Homo sapiens: one gene and its partner. The protein of the gene in region 1 interacts with the protein of each later gene in a pairwise test. Each region holds a gene or a part of one and is shown on either strand. Other genes may lie near its edges.

Region 1 (3,654 bases):
ATAAATAGGCCAGGCGAGGTAGCTCATGCCTGTAATCCCAGCACTTTGGGAGGCCGAGGCGGGCGGATCACAAGGTCAAGAGTTTGAGACCAGCCTGGCCAACATGGTGAAACCCCGTCTCTACTAGGAATACAAAACTTAGCCAGGCGTGGTGGTGCGTGCCTACAATTCCAGCTACTCGGGAGGCTGAGGTAGGAGAATCGCTTGAACCTGGGAGGCGGAGGTTGCAGTGAGCTGAGATCGCGCCACTGGACTCCAGCCTGGACAACAGAGCAAGACTCCGACGTCTCGGAAAAATAAATAAATAAATAAATAAATAAAGGCCAGGCAAGGTGGCTCACACCTGTAATCCCAGCACTTTGGGAGGCCAAGGTGGGTGGATCCCCTGAGGTTGGGAGTTTGAGACCAGCCTGACCAACATGGAGAAACCCCATCTCTACTAAAAATACAACATTAGCTGGGTGTGGTGGCGCATGCCTGTAATCCCAGCTACTTGGGAGGCTGAGGCAGGAGAATTGCTTGAACCCAGGAGGCGGAGGTTGCGGTGAGCCGAGATCGCGCCATTGCACTTCAGCCTGAGCAACAAGAGTGAAACTCTGTCTCAATAAATAAGTAAATAAAATACGTAAAAAATAAATTATTTTTGGCTGGGCACAGTGGCTCACGCCTGTAATCCCAGCACTTTGGGAGGCCGAGGTGGATGGATCACGAGGTCAGGCGTTCAAGACCAGCCTGGCCAACATAGTGAAACCCCGTCTCTACTAAAAATGAAAATGAAAATAATTAGCTGGGTGTGGTTGCAGGCGCCTGTAATCCCAGCTACTTGGAAGGCTGAGGCAGGAGAATGGCTTGAACCTGGGAGGCAGGGGTTGCAGTGAGCCAAGATTGCGCCACTGCACTCCAGCCTGGGGAACAGTGTGAGACTCCGTCTCAAAAACATATATATATTTTTAAAAAATGATAATGCTTACCTCATAGAGTTGCAAGAATTCAACTGGTTTGAGACGATCAATGGGAGTCTGAGTACAGTGTCCGGCTCATGGTTAGGGCTCAAGAATGTTACTAAAGTGACTAGAAAATAGTTCGGACTCCAGGGGGTGGGCATAAGAGGGAAGCCTTGCCACCCAAATAGGGGCTGGGTATAAGGGCCAGGTGTGAACCCAGAGTATGGGCTGGAAGGCACAGATTGATGGTGATGGGAATGTCACCAGGTGGAACAGAATAGTGGGAACTGTCCATGGGGCTGGCCACAAGTAAGGGGTTCGAGGGAGCCCCATGAGTCAGCCAGGTCCGGAGCACTGACTTCTGTGCCCACTGCCATCACAAAAACTCTCTGGGGTCCCACGCCCATTTGGAATGCCCCCTTCTTTTTTCCTCATGCCCCCCATTCCAGTTTCCCATGTCCTGTTCTCCTGAACCCCCTGCCTGTTCCTGGTGACTGAACCCCCTTGCAACGCGTTCCCTGTTCTGCAGTCTCACAGCCCCCAGTGCCAGTGTTTGTCCCTGAAGTTCTTGCTCCATCTCAACCCTCTCCCTCCTTCCAGTCCTGCACTTCTTCCTCGATAGCCGCTGGGGCGCAAGCCGAGAGCGGCTGGCTATCAGCAAGGACCAGCGAGCAGTACGGAGTGTTCCAGGGCTGCCCCTGCTGCTGGCTGCTGACCGGCTGCTGACCGGCTGCCACCTGAGTGTGGATGTGGTCCTGGGCGACGTGGCTGTGACCCAGGGCCGCAGCTACTGGGCCTGCGCCGTAGACCCAGCCTCCTACTTGGTCAAGGTGGGCGTCGGGCTGGAGAGCAAGCTTCAAGAAAGTTTCCAGGGTGCCCCCGATGTGATCAGCCCCAGGTCAGACCCCTCTGGAAGGGATGGGGTGTGGGGGTCCTGGTGGGAGTGAGGGGCACAGAAGGGGTGGCAAGTGGAGCACAGACTTGCTAGGGTGGGGCTGGGAGGGGATTAGGAGGAAGTAGTAGGAGCCTGGAAGCCAGGCTGGGAGGCCTGTGTCCAGGAGACGCATGGGCTCAGCAAAAGGGCTTTTGAGGACTGATTTTCAGAGCATGTCGTGTGGTCAGGGAAAGGGATGATAGAAGAGGGAGCCATCTCTGCTTCCTTCCAACCATCTGTCACTCTGGATCAACACACCATCTCTCCAAGCATCTGTGTCCTTTCTTCCTAACACTCCATTTCCAACATACCTTCTCCATAAAACCTTTGCTCTCCAAGACCTCCTTCACCCGTATCTTAAAATTCTTCCCTTAGCCGGATGCGGTGGCTCACGCCTGTAATCCCAGCACTTTGGGAGGCTGAGGCAGGCAAATCACTGGAGGTCGAGAGTTCGAGACCAGCTTGACCAACATGGAGTGACCCCATCTCTACTAAAAATACAAAAAAAATAGCTGGGCGTGGTAGCGCATGCCTGTAACCCCGGCTACTCGTGAGGCTGAGGCAGGAGAATCACTTGAACCCGGGAGGTGGAGGTTGCGGTGAGCCAAGATTGTGTCATTGCACTGCAGCCTGGGCGACAAAAGCAAAACTCCTTCTCAAAAAAAAAAAAAAAAAAATTCTTCCCTTAAACATCCCACCTCCATAACCCTCCTCTCCCCAACTCCCTGTTTTTTTTTTTTTTTGAAATGGAGTCTCGCTCTGTCGCTCAGGCTGGAGTCTAGCGGCGCGATCTCCGCTCACTGCAAGCTCCACCTCCCGGGTTCACACCATTCTCCTGCCTCAGCCTCCCGAGTAGCTGGGACTACAGGCACCCGCCACCATGCCCAGCTAATTTTTTGTATTTTTAGTAGAGACGGGCTTTCACCGTGTTAGCCAGGATGGTCTCAATCTCCTGACCTCGTGATCCGCCCACCTTGGCCTCCCAAAGTGCTGGGATTACAGGCGTGAGCCACTGTGCCTGGCCCCAACTCCCTATTTAACACCCTCCCACTAATGCTTTGCATCCTAAGCCTTCTCCCCAGCACTCTATCCCCCAACACCTTATTTCTTCAAAATGCTTTCTCCCCAACACAAACCCCTCCTAAACCCCATTGTCCCCAACCCCGCATACCTCTAACACCCTTCATTTGTGACACCAATCCACCCTCATCTCTCTCCCGACACCCACCTTCCCAACATCCTTTCTCTTCTTAGTCACTAATCTCGGATTCTTCCAATGTCCTCTAATCCTCAGAACCATCTCCCCAGCATGATTTCCCCAAGACCATTTTTCTCAATGCCTTTCCGCGGGCTATACCAATGCCATGTCTTTCCTGTCCGCCTGCCCCTCTCTTGCCAATGTGCTTTCCTCTCAGTGCTCTCTTTCCACCAAACCCAAACCCCTGACCCTATACTCTAACCCCTGCCTCTTCAGCGTTTTCTTCTCAACACCCAAAATCCATCCCTTCAACCTCTTGCTCCTTAACATTCCATCCTTCCAGCGTCTCCCTCTGGTACCTCATCCGTCACTCCATCCCTCAACAATCTCGTCCCCAACACCCGCTTCTGCAGGTACGACCCGGACAGCGGGCACGACAGCGGTGCCGAGGATGCCACAGTGGAGGCGTCGCCACCCTTCGCTTTCCTAACCATTGGCATGGGCAAGATCCTGCTGGGGTCGGGGGCAAGCTCAAACGCAGGGCTGACAGGGAGGGATGGCCCCACAGCCGGCTGCAC
Region 2 (3,049 bases), on another chromosome or scaffold:
TCTCGGCTCACTGCAACCTCTGCCTCCTGGATTCAAGCAATTCTCCTGCCTCAGCTTCCCGAGTAGCTGGGATTATAGGCATGCGCCACCACGCCCTGCTAATTTTGTATTTTTAGTAGAGTCAGGATTTCTCCACATTGGTCAGGCTGGCCTCAAACTCTCGACCTCAGGTGATCCGCCTGCCTCGGCCTCCCAAAGTGCTGGGATTACAGGTGTGAGCCACTGCGCCCGACATCCCAATTTTTAAAATAGTTATACTATGTCAACATTTTCAGAACATACTGGTATAGCATACTGTACTTTCTTCCTTTTATCCCCCATTTATTCTTAGTTCTTCAACTATATATTTAACACTTGCCCCCAGTTTTGTTTTGTTTTGTTTTGAGGAGGAATCTTGCTCTGTTGCCCAGGCTGGAGTGCAGTGGTGTGATCTTGGCTCACTGCAACCTCCGCCTCCCGGGTTCAAGTGATTCTCCTGCCTCAGCCTCTCGAGTAGCTGGGATTACAAGTGGGCACCACCACACCCGGCTAATTGTTGTATTTTTAGTAGAGATGGGTTTTGCCATGTTGGCCAGGCTGGTTTTGAACTCCTGACCTCAAGTGATCCACCTGTGTTGGCCTCCTAAAGTACTGGGATTACAGGTGTGTGCCACCGCGCCAGGCAATTGCCCCCAGTTTTTATTTGATGGCTCTGACTGTTTCTCATATCTGACTCTTTAATTATGAATCCAGGGCATAGATTAGTATCTCCATCTTGTAAGGATGCAAAGAAGCCATGAAAATAAGTAATATCAACTCCTGAGGATAAAACGTTACTTGACTAGAGTTAGCTTTTTAATTGTAATCATTTATAAACTTCTTTGTTCCTTACATATAAGCATAGTCATAACCATGGTACCCAAAATTTTCTATAAGTTATTGTAACTCCTTAAAGGTCTTGCTACAGTTCTTTTATCCAGTACAAATAATTGGGAAAATGTAAAGCTGAATGAAATCTAGTGAGCCTCATATCCTCCCTTTTAGATATTGATTTTAAGTTTGCTTTTCACAGCTGCTAAAAAGTAACAACTGATTTTTAGTTCCACAACCTCTCTTTCTTCAATTTAGATGGATCATACAATAAAGCAAAATCTGGCTGGTTACAGTGGCTCACACCTATAATCCCAGCACTTTGGGAGGCTGAGGTGGAGGGTCTCATGAGCCCAGGAGTTCAAGACCAACCTGGGCAATATAGTGAGACTCTTTCTATTTAAACAAAAACAAAAACAAACAAACAAACAAACAAAAAGCTGGGCATGATGCACACCTTTAGTTTCAGCTACTAAGGAGGCTGAGGTTGGAGGATCACTTGAGCCTAGGAGGTCAACACTGCAGTGAGCTATGATCATGCTACTGCCCTCCAGCCTGGGCAACAGAGCAAGACCCTGTCTCCAAAAACATAAATAATTAAATATAAATAAAAATAAAGCAAAATCTGTTGGGAAACGAGAAAAAGGAGAGGAATTTTTCAGGAATAATCATAAAAAGAAATGATCATCAGACTGAAAGTCCAGAGCCTGAGAAATGAAAACATATTTTTAAGCATTGGTGTTGACCATGCAGACAAACTTTTGTTAATTCAGAGCGATACAAAAGGCACTTTGAATCTATAAAACTTGAAAAAGTTAAAAATTGTATGTCGGATAAAGCTTTAAGTCATCTGTCACTATTAACCTCAGTGCAGCAATTCTGACTCCTGTGCCTGGATTCCTTTTATGATAATTTTGCCACCTACAGGACAGATTAGGTGCTGGTCGCCTGAATTATTTTGTGTTCTGAATTATTTTGAGCTCTAAAATGGTAAAGTACAAATACTCATTGTTTTACTGTGCCTTTGGCCTTTTATAAAAAGGTATTTATAATTCGTTGATAAAAACCAATATTTGAAGCTGTTGATTACCAACAAAAAAGTTTCACTCTCTTTATAGTGCTTCAGGATACAACTTTTTCAGGGCCTTATTAGAGAAAAACTGATTCACATGTTATTCTTCTAAAGCTAAATTATTAAAATGTAGGTTGAAAGATTGGATTGATTGTGAATCTACACTAAAGATATGGTTCCAGGCAGACCTCCTTAGAGACCTCCAGGCAGACCTCCTTACTGTCTTCAGTGATGTTTAATTTCATTACTGTTACTGGGTGCCAAGTGTCTTTCATTTGGAAGTGAACTTACTCCAGTTATTGAATGTTTATCATATCATAATTTGCATTTTTCCAACATTGAAGGTATTTTAAAAAGTCACTAAGAGATTCATTCTTTTATTATTCAACTACAAAAAAATAGTGTAATGATCAGAATTTAAAATGTGTGATTCTTTTTCTTCTGTAAGTATGTATTGCTATGATAAATAAAAAATGGCAGGACCATTGTTTTTATTAAAATATCTACTGTGTCTATTCTTAAACATTAATCTTGATTACTATTTTACTCAAATTTAATAATGCTTTTTAAATTTTCATCATTGAGCAACATCTATCACAAAGGTGTACATTCATTTAGGCCAGTACTTCTCAACTGGGGGTAATTTTGTCTCCCAGCAGACATTGGCAATGTCTAGATACATTTTGGGTTGTCCTAACAGGGCTTGGGTGTGCTAGTGGCCTGAGATCTAGATACAGGTCAGGGATGCTGTTCAGCATTCTACAGTGCACAAGACAGCCCCTTGCAACAAAGAATTATCCTGCGCAAAATGGCAATAGTGCCTAGGCTTAGAAACTCTGATTTGGTCAACATAATACTGAGCACTATGGATTTATTATTTGTTCTGCTAGCAAGAGGCTTCACTGAAATTTAAAAGGTAAGATGTAGATAGATTCTTCCCCCTGCTAAATCCATACTAAGTTTTGAATGGCTGTAGCTGTCATGCGTACCCATATGTCATGAGCATATTAATTTTTTGATTTTTTGCAAGAACACATACAGGACAGAACACAAGTGTTACTGACGAAACCTCTGATGCCTGTTTGCTGAGTGACGTTCTAGATGATTGAGGGAACCCAGATCAGTTGA

What was found. The genes of interacting proteins can lie anywhere in the genome.
Region 2: the proteins of TRIM46 (region 1) and RNF125 interact in a two-hybrid assay, tested with the Homo sapiens proteins (one large-scale study listed by BioGRID and IntAct).

The regions. Positions count from the first base shown.
Region 1 is NC_000001.11:155,180,308-155,183,961, forward strand, and holds part of TRIM46 (tripartite motif-containing protein 46), read left to right. Parts: intron 1-127; coding exon of another isoform or gene 128-195; exon of another isoform or gene 196-372; intron 373-1,544; coding exon 1,545-1,842; intron 1,843-3,489; coding exon 3,490-3,654.
Region 2 is NC_000018.10:32,070,770-32,073,818, forward strand, and holds the end of RNF125 (E3 ubiquitin-protein ligase RNF125), read left to right. Parts: 3' UTR 1-2,450; downstream 2,451-3,049. UniProt on the Homo sapiens protein: E3 ubiquitin-protein ligase that mediates ubiquitination and subsequent proteasomal degradation of target proteins, such as RIGI, MAVS/IPS1, IFIH1/MDA5, JAK1 and p53/TP53.